Regions from separate parts of the Homo sapiens genome. Here region 2 is linked to region 1. The links come from fine-mapping of genetic effects on gene expression. Tissue or cell type: cerebral cortex. Region 1 holds a variant in brackets; the other region holds the start of a gene. All regions are shown on one strand. Distances are from middle to middle.

Region 1 (8,000 bases):
AACTCATAGCATGGAGCAGGCAATTATGTAACATTTATTAGTTGTGATTTCTATGCTTTAATCCATTGATTTTGTTCTCACAGAAATACTATAGAATGCATTCATGAATATGATACATACCTTTATTCCCCTTATACCAATTTTCATCTCATTATTTTACCATATATTTTGTAGTTGCTTCTATTTTACTATCAGATAAAAAATAAAGATGGGAATAATGTAATATATATCTCCATATTTTTGTATTGACATGCCTCAATTATCATTTAAAAGCTAATTTATAAAAAAAGAATATTTCGATGAACACCAAAGTATCACTTCTTAGACTGATTAATTTTCAATATTTTTTCAATTTTTTCCAAGAAATGGCAGAGTATGAATAAAGGAGTGGATCTGTATATAGCTCCAAATCTCATTCCCCTCCTTTTTCCCCGTAGAAAGTCACTTTTATAACTGAAGTTGAGGTTTATCTTTGAAGTCCATACATCCATAAATAACATATGCCATGGCTTTGCTTGCTTTTAAATAGTGGTATTATAGCAGGATTATAGCCGTGTGTGTGTGTGTGTGTGTGTGTGTGTGTGTGTGTGTGTGTGTATTTTCCCTCTTCACAATCATTGTCCTTCACAGGTACACTATGTTGTCTTCTCCACCCCAAAATAAGACAGGAAAAAAAGATATAAAGATCTTATTGACCTAACTGACCTCATAGCCAGAGAAAGATTCTTGAATGCATACCTGCAAAGCCAGTTTTTCTCCCACCCAAGGACCAGATTAAAATAAGCTAAGACAACAAAAAGAGAAATTTGAGAAGTAACAAAAGGGAAGACAAAAAAAGAGGGGGAGAATGGGGAAAGAGTCTCTGAAGGAGGGGACAGCAGGAACACAGAGGAAGGGCTGTCTCCAAATGTGGATCTGCTGCAGGCTCACTACCTCTGTATAATCCACCATTCAAGTGTCCTGAGAACTTGGGAAGACATTTATAGGTAAATAAGTTCGGATGGTTTATATGGGCATAGAAACATCAGAGAAGAATTTGGCTCCCTGACCATGGAGGTATTGAGAAGAACTGCATATGTAACTTTTCCAAGGAAAAGCAATGCAATGAACTCAAAGCTGCTGTTTGCGTCAAATTCTTTTTATCTTCTGTAAAATCCTTGCCTTCCTTGCTTAACTTTGGATTCAATATTTATCCACACTGCCATGTATGAAATTCTATTGTATTCATTTTCATTGCTGTATAGTATTCCGTGAATATACCATATTATGCAGACAACTGAAACAATGCTTCAATGAATATCCTGTTACAGTCTCACTCTGCACATATAGAGTTCCTCTAGGGTAACAGAAGTAGAACTGCAAGGGTATAGCATAAGCACATCTCCAGTCTTATCAGATATTGCTTCATTGTTCTTCGAAGTCGTCACAACAAGGAGTCTGGGCATGCTTTAAAAACCTTTTTAATTATTCAGGCTTCTTTTCTTTGAGTTGTCTGTTAACATTCTTTGTCCAATTTTATTATTTATTTACTGGTTTTTCTTACTGGTTTGCAGGAGTTCTTAATAAATTCTGAATACTAATTTTGTATTGGTTACTGGACTATAATTATCTTTTCCCAACTTGTGACTTGAATAGTCACATTGTAAACAATGGCATATTTTGTAGTGTTTTCAATTTTCATTTAGTTTTATTTATCTATTTCTTTGTGAGCTTCTGCATTTCTTCTTGTTTAAACCGTCTTCTTTATTCTCAATGCCATATATATAACCAGTCTCATATTTTCTTTTGTAAGAGTTAAAGATTTCTACATTTAATAAGACTCATCTTTGATATGCTGAGAGTAGAGATATTTTTCCTTGTAGGTAACCGATCATATCAGCATCACGTATTGATAGTCCATCTTTTCCCCATTTATTTTCTACCCCCTCATATGTCAAGTTTCCGTACGTGTAAAGTGTGACCCCTACTCTTTTTAACTGGCCCATTTATTAATGAGTGAATCAATACAATAGTGTTTTAATTATGAAATTTTATAAATTAAGACTGGGTAAGGCCAACTTCCCACTTGTTATTTGGACATTGTCTTAGTTATTCCTTGTCTTTTGCTTTTCCACATGATGTTTAGAATCAGCTTGTCAAATTCTATCAAAGCCTCATTGAACATTTGATTGAAATCATACTGAATTAATAATGATATTTTTGTTAAGAATTGTAATCTTTAGGATATTGAGTCTTCCCAAGCATGAACATGATACAGCTTTTCATTTCATTCTTTTATGTCCTTCATTAATATTTTATATTTTTCTGTATGAAAGTCTTATACAAGTTATATTGGAATTTTTTCTATGCCCCTAATAGAGACAGATCCTATCTGTGTTGTTTTGAAGTTTGTACAGTTTGAGAGGCACTCCTTAAGAAAAATAAATTGTCCACTTCCCGCTCCCTGGGGAGGCTATGCAAGTAAAACACCGCAAAACTTAGCTTCATTAGTTTCACAGTAGATCTGCTCCTACCCCCTTTCATTTTCTTTGTGAATTCACCATAGTGAATGAGATCTTTGGAAACTGCTAAGTTTTAAAAATACCAGTGAGTTTCGTATGTTGACATTATTCTCAGAAAATTGGCTATTTTATTAATTCCAATGGGTTGCCTATAGCATCTCTTGGGTTTTCCATGCAGACAATCAAACTATCTGTGGGAAAGGGCAATGTTATCTCTTCTTTCCTATGTCCTATGTTTGTGTCAAACATGACAAAGCACCAAATGTCTTTTAAAATTATATAAAACACAATGCCAATTAAAGTAAATAACTGGAAAAAATCTGGGGCCTGCATGTTCCAACAGAAAACATAATAGTAAGCCCACTTCAATAAAATTTCCCCATACACACACGCATGTATACATGTGACATTTTCTAGGCATGATTTACTCTGACCTTACAAGTATTCAGTCTTCATAAAGATTTATAGATGCTTGGAACTCTTAGTCATACTTAATACCAATTCTTATCCCCTAACTAACACTTTCCTATCAATAAAAGTAAATTTGTACTTCACATTATTGCAAATTACTCACTAAAGATGAATGGTTTCTATTAAGAACGTAAAAAGCTACTCTGATTTTTTATTAAACTTTAAATTACTTTTCAAAAACTGAAAGTAGTTCTTGACAATAGCAAATGTATTTTGTTTGTAACTTGGTGCTTTTTCAAAACTAACTACAGCATTCAAAGTAATCAAAATAGAACTTCTTTTCCCAGAAGGGGATAGTTGATAAATGAAAGCAGAAATCCTAAAAGTTCTTAATCCCGTATGAACAGTAAGTTTTACCTGAAGATACTGAGTATGTAACTTCTGCATTATTTCCTTCATCAGGATCCTTTGCAAACACAGTTGTAACCAACATATTTACTGGTTGACCTTCCAGAACCTGCCATTAAAACAAACAGCTTACAAATGAGTCAGCAAAAGTTTAAAAAGAAATATCAGTGGACCTTTAAATGAATGAATACATTATACTAAACATTTTAAACTATCTTAAAATCCACATATAATTCAAATGCATACCATGTAAAAGTTATATGGGTGTATGTCCATGAAAAGAATCCTCCTTACATATTAAATCTTTTATTCAATTAGAATGAATTATCTGAGGCATCTGAACTAATTCTGACCAAAAGAAAAAGAAATTGAACTTGCTAAACAATCTTAGATTTTTGGTGTATTTTAAGATTTCTAGCATATTCTCATTCATCATCTCTTAGGACATTTTTTGAAAGGTGGTTGCTATGGCTTAAAATATGCTTAAAATAAGTATGAACCTTTAATTCAGAAAACAAAACTCATGCAGGACATACCAATTATCAGGAGCTGTCCTGCAATGTTGAAATGCACATGTGAAGTTCAACTACATGTTTAGAGTCCAACTGCCCAATTAAGCCACAGGACATTTTAATGATATGATTAAAAAGTGTAATGATGATATAATAATATTTTGCTTTGTTAGAATTTTTCTTTAAAGCTGGATTCAGATCAGTTTAAAGTTATGAGTTCCTCAATACTTTTGTTGAGTTGTTCAATATGTATATTTGAGCACAATTTGAATGTCTAATTCAATTGTTCTGGAACAGTAGCTTCTAAACTTTTCATTATTATAACCCATCCACTAAAAAAATTATTAGTAGGTCCAAACATATTTATTAATTATGTGAATGAACTGATATTCTAATTTATTATGTATATTATACAACATACAAAAAGACAAATGAAAAAGATGAGATAATATAAATATAATTGCCAGTTGGTGCATGTGATCAAAAGGATCAACTTTTACTATCTCTGGATTTCCACCTACCCACTTTAGAGCTACAGGTTGTTCCCCTACCCTTAAGTAACTATCTTAGAGACATGTATCAATTGCCGTTAAGAAGCTCTGCACAAAGAGATGCACGTAAACTACTGGAAAAACAAGCCATGTCTGAGCATTAACCTGAAGCACCATTCAGTTTGTGTACAAGGGGCTGAACTAAACTTATTGTTATAAAGCAACTGGAGGTACAATGCCAAAGAGCACATATATTCATTTACTTTTTAAAAATTTTCTTTTAAAATAACATGTGCACAGTATCTAGGTCTTCTAGAAAAAGTATGCTTTGCCACACCAAGACTGATGTGATAAATTCACAGGTTTTACCACAAGATGGTGCTCAAAACAAATGACTTAAGATATTACAAATTCATTGCAAGGTTTCTTCACAAACCTTCACGTGTAACTCCTTTCCAGGGAGACACTGGGGGAAGAAGGGCCTGTTATCATTGATGTCAGTAACTGAGACGTAAACCGCCATGGTGGCGTTTCGTGGTGGGGAGCC[G/A]CGGTCTGTCACTAGCACAGTCATCTCATGGTGCCCCCGGTGCTCACGATCCAGTGCCACCCAATTGATTAACTCTCCTGCAGAGTACAGAGCAGAACAAGACACAGGCACTGTGTACCAGGCGCACCAGGGCCAGAACCATTTCCAGAAGGAAAACCAAGTACAAAGCTTTGAGCAAATATGCGACTTCTAAGACCATCTACATAGTAGTTTGGCTCTATGGTACTGTTGAAAAAATTTTCTCAAGTTGCTCCTGAAAATGTCACTTTAAATTTGTTATTCTTTGTATTTCAAATTATCATCCATCGATCATTTGAACTAATAAACAATGAATTCATAAAAATGATAAAACTCCGTGGGAACTTAGTAATGATTTGGAAGATTTAAAACTGCTGCTTATCCCTCTTTATGCTGCTATACAGAATGATGGAAAGCATGTGAGCTCTGACACAGGTTCTGGCTTTGGCCCCAGTTTCCCCATCTCAGACATGGAATGACTCCTCTGAGCCTGGGACTGCTGTCAGGAAGAAATGTAATCACACATTTAAAAGTATTGTGCAAGCTATACATGACGACACAAGTGGAAGCTGTTATTACTACTTTAACATAATGGCTAAATACCTTTCTGGAAATCAAATAATATCCCTTAGGCAATAGTTCTTGTTTTATGCACACAAGTATTTGTTTTTTATCTCACAAAATATACATGTAGCAGTGGATAGTGACTTCCTATAAAAACTCTTAATGCTTTAGAAGCTTTATTTCAAATATTTCTGCCTAGAGCTATACTACCTTCAGTAACTTTCCTCATGTGTCAGCCATGCAGACCCAGGCATAACATCTAAGTGCCTCTTCCTATTGCCAGGGACCTTGGGAAGACAAGCACTCGGTCCAATAGCCTGTCAGAGCTCTGCCAAGCATTGATTTCCTCACCATTTATGAAAAAAAAATGTACCTGTGAGAATGTGAGCATGAAGCAGCTACCGACAAACATTTCTGTGGCTAAAAACTTTTTTCCTCTTAATACAAATAAAATAGCATTGCATTAAAAAAAAGTGGAAACAGGGAACAAAAATGAAAATTCTCATTTAGGTAAGTTGCTGAATTGGTGAGCTTAAATGCAGTGTTTATGATAACTGTTTACTGTTAATATATAAACTATATTTATAGTGTTTACTCGGTGGTTTTAATATAGATCATACACACAATTGCTTTTTTTAAATTCCAAACTATAATTCTCCTCCGAAGACCTTAACTTCTGAATGGCAAACAGATTTTTATTCATAAAGCAAATCTGATGGATAAGCAGCAGCCTTGGAGGTCGGGGATGTAAAAGACTGTGCAGCTCAGGCTGCAGCTGGGGATGGGCGACACCAGGATATGGTTCCACAGGAGCTCAAGTCCTGGTCACTTGTAGGACTGTCCAGAGAACTGGATGAAAAGGGGGTGTGTCTCCCAGGCTCTGAAGGACACCCTCCACCCTGCCTTGCCATGCTGTCCTTGGGAGGAGGAACAGTTTACAAGCACGTAGTGTTCCAAGCCCTTTCATATTCTTTAGCTCTTTACCCCTCAAAGCATGGCACAGGGCGTGTCAGGAATTGTCTCCTGTATTCATGGTAAGGAAGCAGCTCTGAGCTTAAGCTACTTGCTTAAAGCCATACAATGAAATTAGGAATGGACACCTCGTTTTCTTGTAGGGGAGGGAAGATCACGGGGGAATCAACTGTAGTTTGCTTATTTTAAAGAAAAAAACAAGTGAAATAGAAGACCTTGAAAACTAGCCATATGGAAGTAAAGTGCAAGCAGGGTCATCCCATATAGCTGTATGGTTTGTGCCCTTGCAGCAGGAGTCTCAGTTTAGGGAGTGAATGAGAGTGGAAAGGCAGCTTGCAACCTTCTTGGCAAGCCATGTGCCCTGTGAAAACCCTCCATCTGCTGTGAAAGGTCACCTTCTCCTAATTCACAGAACAGAGACTTGAGAACAAAGGCTTGAAGTTCATCAGAACTGAATGCAAAGTCTGTCCCACTAAAGGCAGCAGCACCATCTGCCCAGGTTATGACATAGATGGTGCCTGCTGGACCTGCACAAAAAGGGAGCTTCTTCTCATCTTACCAGCTCCATGACTTTGGGTGTACTACTCGAGCTATCTGAGTTTCAGTTTTCCCGGGTATGTATTTGCAGTATAGATATGTTTCATTGTAAGGATTAAATAAACTCCCCGTAAACTTATACAACATAAATTTTAAAATATAGTGACTTTTAATCTTTAATTTCTTAATTCAGACTTTAAAAATTTCACTGTAATTATTCCCCCTTTTCCTCTGGTTCCCCTGTCAGAATGAGAAAAAGGATATATATTCTTAGAGTGATTTTGAAATCTTAACCAATGAATTGATGTCTAGCTTTACATTGATGATATTTATATTTCACAAAATACGTTTTGACGTTTTTTAAATGTCTACAAATGGAAAAGGATGGTTGTTGAAAAAATTAGCCTTTACACAAGGATATATTCAATCCAGTTCTGACTATACCTCTAGTTCAGAAAAAGAACCATATATTGGCAAGATGGGGATGTGATGCAGGGAAAGTATGAATTATTATGGGTGAAACTCTATTCAATTTTTAATCCATTTTTAAGACCTCACAATAGAGTAATCGAATACCTTATTTATTAAAAACCATTATTTCAATTGCATGTATGCACTAATGCTATACCTAACGACTTGAGTTTTCTCAATCCTGATTTTGTTTAATTTTTTATTTTTATTTTTACTTAAAGACGAGTGTGATAGTACTGAACCCTCATTTTAAAGGAATAGGTGGAAACTATGAAGTGCTACCTGTATTAGGATTCATCTTGAAGAATTTTCCATCAGACAAAAGGAAATATAATAGCTGTCCATTCTTTCCAGAGTCCATGTCAATAGCTGTAATTTTGCCTATTACCCCTTGGGGAACAGGGCTCTCTTCGACTTTCAAAAACAACACATCATGCAAGAAGGTGGGGGAATTGTCATTCTCATCCCAGACACGAACAATGACTGTAGTGCTCACATTTTGCAAGAATCCGTCCTCGGGGATCCAAGCAAACACTCTAAAATTATATGTTTGGGTGGATTCATAGTC
Region 2 (8,177 bases), 160 kb after region 1:
CAGTCTTCATCCAACCTTTGTAAGCTTCGAAGGAAGGTAGGAAAACATGTAAGAAGTCTCTGGAAAAGGTAACTCAAAACAGTGTCAGTGTATAAAGATATACACTTGGTCATTTTAAAAACTCACTTACGAGAACTACCTTATTCCCTAGGTTGCCTCATAAAGCTGTTAAAAAAATATATGAGACATTGCTGGGCGTGGTGGCTCACCCCTGTAATCCCAGCACTTTGGGAAGTTGAGGAGGGCAGATCACCTGAGGTCAGGAGTTCGAGACCAGCCTGGCAAACATGGTGAAACCCCATCTCCACTAAAAAAATACAGAAATTAGCCAGGTATGGTGGCAGGCAGGAGAATTGCTTGAGTCTGGGAAAAGGAGGTTGCAGTGAGCCGAGATTGAGCCACTGCACTCCAGCCTGGGCAACAGAGTGACACTCTGTTTGACAAAAATATATATATGTGTGTGTGTGTGTCTGTGTGTGTGTGTGTGTGTGTGTGTGTGTGTATACATGTATTTATATGATATGATGTGAGACATTGTCAGTTGGAAGAGGTCTGATTTAGAATGGGCAGTTCCTCCTGAACCTATTTAGGTGCATACATCCAGCAGGAAAGAAATCAGGCTTCAATAAGATAAATCAAGATCTAAAAGTCAAGTTGAAAGGACCTTAGAGATCATGTAGCCAAGACCCTGGCAAAAAAAAGTTAGGTGACTAGAGGGCATCATTCATCTCACTGTAGAGGGGGCACTACCGCCAGTCTTGTATTTGAGAGCCGGAATATTATCCTCCACATCACAATTTCCTAGGCCAACTCACAACCCTCTCCATCCCTTCCCAAGCCTTCAGGTTGGCCCACAGGCCTGATGCACTCACCTGCAGAAAGCAGTGTCCAACCGGGGCATGCTCTGCAATGGTGGCATTGTACACCTGCCTCCAGAAGATGGGCTCATTGTCATTCACATCATCTACGGTGATGCTCACCAGGCAGGTGGCAGAGAGTGGGGGCTCTCCGAGGTCCTGGGCCACCACTTTCAGCTCCACCGCCTCCTGGACCTCTCGGTCTAGAGTCCGGATAGTGCTGATCGCACCGCTTTCGGAATCAATGGCAAAAGATGGTCCACACTCTGCGGTGTGGACCATCTTTGATTGCAGGGAGCCGAGATTGCAGGGAGCCGAGAGTTGGACTACAGTGTAGCGCAGCCAGGCGTGATCACTGCCTGCCTCGTCGGCATCGGAGGCGCTGACCCACATGACTACAGTGCCAGGGGCCGCGGCCTCGGACACTGAGGCCTTGTAATGCTGTTGGCTGAAGAGAGGTGGTTGGTCATTGAGGTCAGCGACCCGGAGTAGCAGCGTCTCCTCCGTGCTCAGCGGCGGGGACCCCGCGTCCGTGGCCACCAGTAGTAACTCATACAGATCGCGGCTCTCTCTGTCCAGGGGCCCCTCCACGCAAAGGAAAAATACCCCTGGGGGGCCGCCGGGTAGCAACGCGAAGTCTCCCTCTCCGCCTTCCAAGGACAGAGAGATGCTCCCGTCTCCAAGACCCACACCAAGCTCCCCTGTGGCCTCATCTTCCTTCTCCCAGTCACCGTCCGCGTCAGACACCGAGACGCGAGCCACGTAGTCGCCCGGTCGGGCGCCTTCAGAGACACGGGCGACGCCTCCCTCTGTGAGAAAGAGCACGTGAATTGCTGGCCGGTTGTCATTCACGTCCAGCACGGCGATGGACACGCGCACCGTGGCAACCTCAGGCTCGGCGCCTCCATCGCGGGCCTCCACCACCAACTGGTGCCAGGCCTGTGCCTCGCGGTCCAGAGGTCTCCACACTCGCACCACGCCGCTCAGCTCCTCCACCGCGAAGTAGGCCGCGTCGCCCAGTGCCCCGCCGCCGCTACCCGCCCCAGGCACTTGCCGGGCGCGGACGCTGTAGCGCACGAAGCCATTGGGCCCCAGGTCGCGGTCGGTGGCGCGCACGCGACAGACCTCGGCGCCCGGCTGGGCGTCCTCGCGCACCGCGGCGCGGTACTCGTCCTGCTCAAAGACCGGCGGGTTGTCGTTCTCATCCAGCACGCGCAGCTCCACGCTCAGGAGGCCGGTGCGCCGGGGTCGGCCGCCGTCCCATGCCTCGATCTGCAGCCGGTGCGCCGCCGCCTCCTCTCGGTCCAAGCGCCGCAGCAGCACCAGATCTAGAGGCTCCAGGGGTGACGAGGAGCCTGGCAAAAGCGGTGACGGTAGTGGCCCCGGAGTCCGGTAGCGCAACTGGAAGAACGGGCCTGCGGGGTCCTTGGGCAGGTCGGACGGTTGCACCAGGGTGTAGCCCTGAGTGCTGAACAGTCCGGCGTCCGGATCGTGGGCAACTGGCAGGCGGAAGGCGGTCCCTGGCGGGCTGAGCTCGGAGACGTCGAGTTGCAGGGAGTCGAGGGGAAAGCGGGGCGAGTGGTCATTCACGTCGTTGACGCGAATCTCCACCTGCACCACAGCGCCCAGCAGCGTGGCGGCGACGAAGCTGTAGTGGTCCCGCCGCTCGCGGTCCAGGCGCCGCGCAGTGCGGATGATGCCGGTGTCCGGGTGCACGTGGAAGTCGTCCAGCAGCGGGGAGTCATCGGAGTCCTCCGACAGAAAGAAGCCGCTCCCCTCCTGCTGCTGCGCGGCCGGCAGCCCGGCGCGGATGTCACCTACCAGCGTGTCCGGGGGAAGCCCCTCATCTACGGAAAGGGTGAGGTTGAACAACTGGGCAGAGGAGCCCGAGGCCGCCCACAGCCACACGTGCACCAAGAGCCAGAGCAGGGAGCGCTGCGTCCTGGCGCCGCTGCTGCCTGACCGCCCATGGGGTGTATCTCTCCTCCCGGGGAGCAGAAGGAGCTTCCCGACCGGAGCCCGCCGCTGCTGACGCCCTTCGCCCATCTTCCGCCCACAAGGGCTCATTTCTCCTCCAGCTCCTTGGGAAGGCTCTCGGGTAACTGCCAGCTTGTGGCAGGATCGCAGAAAAATCCAGGAGCCTCTTCAGTGTCTGAGCCAGAGAAGAAAAGACTTTGTTTGGCAAACAAACCGACGGCCCAGGAATTCCCGAGGTTACATCTGCAACTGGTGAAAGCGTCCTCTGCCTGCAGCTCACGCAGACAGGGAAGTAAGCTCTAGCTGCCTCTGCCGCGGCAGCCACCTCTTCTGCCCCTGGATTTCTTTAAACGAATCTCATCTCTTTTTCTCTCTCCTTTTATTCCCTTTACATCTGTTCCTTGTTCTACTCGGCTGGTTGTTCCCCCCTGGTAAAGTCAGGTGCATTATTTCTTTTGCCAAAAAGGAGGAGATTATATGAAGCGCGCACACACAAGGAGAGGATGGGGATCTGGCCGGAGTAGGGGGTGGAGTAAGGGCGTGGAGGCAGGGAGTCAGGGCGCTGGGGAGGAGGGAGAGAGGGAGGGGGGAAGGGAGGTCTGCGGCCCTGTCCGCTGCTCCGGGGGCGGGGCGGTGGTTCCCCACTGTGTCTCCGGGCGCCAGGGACCGCGCGACTCCTGCTCCGACCCAGCCTCCGCCGCCTGCCTTCCCCTCCCTGCCGTGTGATGCGGCGCACACGAGGGCAAACTCCAACCTGCGAGCCGCGCTCTGCAGCAGGGCGGAAGAGGAGCAAATGCAAAAGCACTGGGAGACGTGCACCGCGGGGCGGGTGGGGGACGCGCAGGCGGGGCGTCTGCCTGGGCTTGGCCAAGTGCCAAGTGATGATGGGTGCGGGGAGGTGAGAGGAGCGGCCTCTCCGCGGCCTCCCCCTCCATCCGCTTGACCGTCCCTCTGCAGGCCTGACTCTTGGCTCGCGCTGAGCCAAGAGGGTAGAGGTTATCATCACTTTGGGGTGCCAAACTTGTGTTCTCCATTTGGCGAGAGGGACTCCCGTCCGCAGCGGAAGGACAGATGGAGTCAAAGGCCGATGCATAGCTGGGGCCAGGATGGCTTTAAAGGGGAGAAGGCGGAACTTGGAAAAGCCTTCCAGAAAACCCGAGAAATCTGTGGCACACATGGTGCAAACCACACTTTATTATGCGTGCTACTACCCAGCGACGTGTGAGCCTCTTGTCACTCCCCTCTGCCACCAGGAATGACGACAATATATCCGCCCTGAGAACCCTTTTTCTACATTCAGCGCCATCATAACACTTCCAGGATGTCTGACGATGCTGACTGATGAGCAGAAAGCCCTGGTGGCTGACACCCCGCAAGCCCTCAGCGCTCCCCCACCACCCCTAGGCAAGGAAGTGTGCAAGCGGGATAACTCTACGGATACCACTTTCAAAACTAGCTTCTGTCTGAGCCGAACGCAAATGCCAATAAATAGCCATAGTCGCAGATTTCCCTTCAATTAACTATAATAATCGGTAGAAACTGATCAATGGCCTCTAATAAAGTACGCCTGAGAAAAGACTCTCTGGACTCTTAAAAATGGCTGACCATATTTAGCAAGTGGTTTCTGCAATTTTGCATTTGGGCCTGAGAGAAGAATTAATTTCCTAGATACCGTTTCTCTCCTTTAGGGAGGACCAAAAGCCCTGCATAGTGGTTTCTTGCAGCAACAACAAAATGCCTTTTTAAATGTGCAACGGAGGTGTATGTAATTGCTAATCCACAGCCACACCGTTATCTCTACCTGTGACCAAATAACAATAAAATAATTGACTTTGTAGCATATATGTTACCGAAAATGGGGACATTATTAAAATAAATTCAGCTTTCTTTCCCCCAATGAACTCTCTTTAACCATTAAAGAGATTTGTTATGAGTCTTTAGAGTCTTTTTATCTTCAGTCTCTGCATTTGCACCCTAACTAGTCCCTCCCCTCCCACTCTTGCCCCTTTATAAGTAATTCTTTTCTGTTTTTGCTATTGTTGTTGTTGTTGCTGTTTTGTTTTCTGAGTCAGGATCTCACTCTGTCACCCAGGCTGGAGTGCGGTGGTGCAATCATGGCGCACTGCAACCTCATGGACTCAAGTGATTCCATCACCTCAGCTTCCAGAGTAGCTGGGACTATGGGTGCCCACCACTATACCTGGCAAATTTTATATTATTTTATTAATTTATTTGTTTATTTTTTTTACTTTTGTAGAGATGAGGTCTCACTATATTGCCCAGGCTCGTCTCGAACTCCTGGGGCCAGTCTTCCTGCCTAGGCCTCCCAAAGTGCTGGGATTACAGGCTTGAGCCACCGCAACCAGCCTATAAGTAATTCTTGAACAAGCATCTGGATTAATGTTTTTAAAGCTGTCTCAAATCATATTACCTCCTGCTTAGAACCTGAAATGATTCCATTATACTTAGATTATAATTCAGACTCCTTCAATCAAGCTCCTTTTAGTAGTACAGGATCCTATCCATCTTTCTGACCTTGCCTCATACCACCACTCTGGACTCAGCCATCTGCCTTCTTTTTGATCTTGTACCTTTGAATTGTTAGAACTTTCCATGCCTGGGAGTTCTTTTTTCTGCTTTGGAAAGAGCTAGCTCTTTCTCATTCAGGTCTCAACTCCAATGCCCTCTGTTAAGAAAGATCTTCCCTAATTACCCTATTTCAGATAGCCTTTCTACTATAAATGCTATATCCTTTCAGTATATTTCATTCACAACACCTATCAGCATCTGAAATCAACTTGCTTTTTTCATTTGTTTATTAGATTATTACAACCTCAAAACCTTCATTCTGCTTTATCTCAGCACCTAGAACAGTACCTAGCATGTAGTGTGTCTCTATTTACTAAGTATGTGTTGGACAGACGGTTGGTTGAACCTATGGGTAAGTGAATGCATTTGTCTGTTAAAGTAGAAGTTGGAAGCCATAACCAAGAATGAATTGGCCATGAGAATCTTCACTGTAATGAATTATGTCTTTGCAATCTTACTCATCTTAATTATTTCATAGGACTTCTTGAACTTATTTTTCAGCTTCGTCAACTTACTTTGTAAACCATTGTATTAGTCTGTTCTTGCATTGCTGTAAAGAACCTGAGACTGGGTAATTTATAAAGAAAAAATGTTTAATTGGCTCATGGTTCTGCAGGCTGTACAGGAAGCATGGTGGGATCAGTTTCTGGGGAGGCCTCAGGAAACTTACAATCATAGCAGAAAGTGAAGGGGAAGTAGGCAGGAGGAAGAAAATGAATGGGGAGGTGCTATACACTTTTAAACAAACACATCTCATGAGAACTCACTCACTCTCATGAGGACAGCATCAGGGAATGGTGCTAAAGCATTCATAAGAAACTGCCTCATGATCCAGTCACCTCCCACCAGGTCCCACCTCTAACACTGGGGATTACCATTCAACATGAGATTTGGGCAGGGACACAGATCCAAACCATATCAACCATATTGTTAACAAATATTTACTTGAGTCTAAAAATAAAGGAAAAGAAGCATCTTTTACTGCATCTTTCACTGACACATTCTTTGTAAACAGTGGTTTAGTTTAGAAACAGTGGAAAACAAATGGAAAATCAAGAACCTCAGACATCTATTTTCCTATTAGTTCTAAAGCTTTATATCTCCAGCATGTACAATTCAAGGTCTCCTGTCCATTTCACAATTACCCTTCATTGAATGTCCTGAATATCCTTAATTATAGAATTAAGAATTCAATTTTGTAAAGTAAGAGAAATAAGAGCATTTCTCAGATATGTGAAAAATAATTTTAGATAATACAGAAGCCAACAGCCTGCAAGAAATAGGTCAAGGTCTGATCCTTGTAAGCGAAGCATCATGGCGTAACTGGCCAGAGTTTTAGCTTTAAAGTTGGAAAATCCTTATTCTGCTCTATAATTTGGGGCAAGTTATTTAAATCTTAAGCCTTAGAGTTTCCTCCTTTCTAAATTGGGGATGATACATCTAATTTACAGGGATGTCATGGGCCTTAAATGAGGCAATATATGTGGATTGGTACCTAGAATGCATGTGGTAAATTGTATTTTTCTTGCCCTCTGGTGTTTGTATGATGAAATGTTTTAGGAGTGAATTATTTTGGAATTCTCAGTAATATCAAACTCCGACTTCTTAGCCCCCCAGAAGGTGTGAAGGGGGAGGATATAAAATTCCCACTATCTGGCTGGATGCAGTGGCTCATGCCTGTAATCCCAGCATTTTCAGAGGCCAAGGCAGGAGGATTGCTTGAGCCCGGGAAGTAAAAACCAGCCTAGGCAATGTGGCAAGACCTTCTCTCTACAAAAAAAAAAAAAAAAAAAAAAAATTTAAAAATAGCCAGGCACGCTGATGCATACCTGTAAGTCCCAGCTACTCAGGAGGCTGAGATGCCAGGATGGCTTGAACCCAAGACATTGAGCTGTGTCATTGCCACTGCACTCCAGCTTGGATGACAGAGCGAAAGCCCATCTCAAAAAAAAAAAAAAAAAATCCCCAGTATTGTAAACAGAAACTTGGACAAAAAGGCTCAAGGCATTTCTTCACTTTGTGTTATTCAGTTTAAGTAACACAGGAAGTCCCTCTTCAGAAACATTTTCCCTCAGACTGTAGGTAGCCCTCAGCTTTGTGATAGTTAATTTAAATAGTGTAGTTGCTAAGTGCTCAAAGCAGGGTTCAAATCACCTCACGTCAACCTTTTAGGAAAGGAGTTATAATTAGTATTCCCATCTTACAGATGAGGAAACTGAGGTTCAGGAGCATTGCAAGTCATGTGGCCAAAGTCCCACAGGTAGTAGAATTGGAACCTGAACCCAGTTTTGCTCCAGTGTCCACGGTGTTCACTGGTCATTTATTGTCTTCATGATTTTCTTTAATAAGATTGTCTTCTTCTGAATTCTTGATGAAATCAGTACAGTGATATAGTGAGTTTTGGGAAGACCTGGGAGAACTACAGAAGGAGGAACTTGTGAGCATGTTAGTGGGAGTGGTGGGGAGGCACAAGAGGATAGTCACATGTCAGTACTTGAAAATACAACCAAAAAAAAAAACCAACTCCGTACTTAGAAATGTACTTAGAAATGGTACTTAAAGGCCAGTAAGGAGAATCGGGTGACATGGAGGGTTTCTTCCCAACTTCTCACGCATGGGGATGGCCCTCTGAGGGTTAAGAAGGGTGCATGATACCAGGAAGCCCCCATACTCCCTTGACTCACATGCCATCTTTCTGAAAACGTTTGAGCCAAAGAGCGTTTGGAGCTTGTGATGGTTAAATGTGATGTGTCA

What was found. PIP is the estimated chance that this variant, and not a neighbour inherited with it, causes the effect.
Region 2: it holds the start of DCHS2, and the variant in region 1 is fine-mapped to the expression of DCHS2 in cerebral cortex (GTEx, PIP 0.98). The same link has a PIP of 0.9 or more in prefrontal cortex.

Annotation. Positions count from the first base shown.
Region 1 is chr4:154,324,764-154,332,763 of GRCh38, forward strand. It overlaps DCHS2 (dachsous cadherin-related 2), which reads right to left. Exons shown (of 20, transcript NM_001358235.2): 5 at 7,715-8,000; 6 at 4,760-4,947; 7 at 3,330-3,429. Among named protein-coding and RNA genes, the nearest start is that of DCHS2, 160 kb to the right of the region's middle. The variant G/A (reference allele first, on the strand shown) is at 4,871.
Region 2 is chr4:154,488,432-154,496,608 of GRCh38, forward strand. DCHS2 (dachsous cadherin-related 2) reads right to left here and starts at 3,368. Exons shown (of 20, transcript NM_001358235.2): 1 at 873-3,368. The coding sequence starts at 2,924. RefSeq lists enhancers at 1,196-2,152, 2,153-3,108, 2,577-2,716, 2,767-2,946, 3,749-3,798.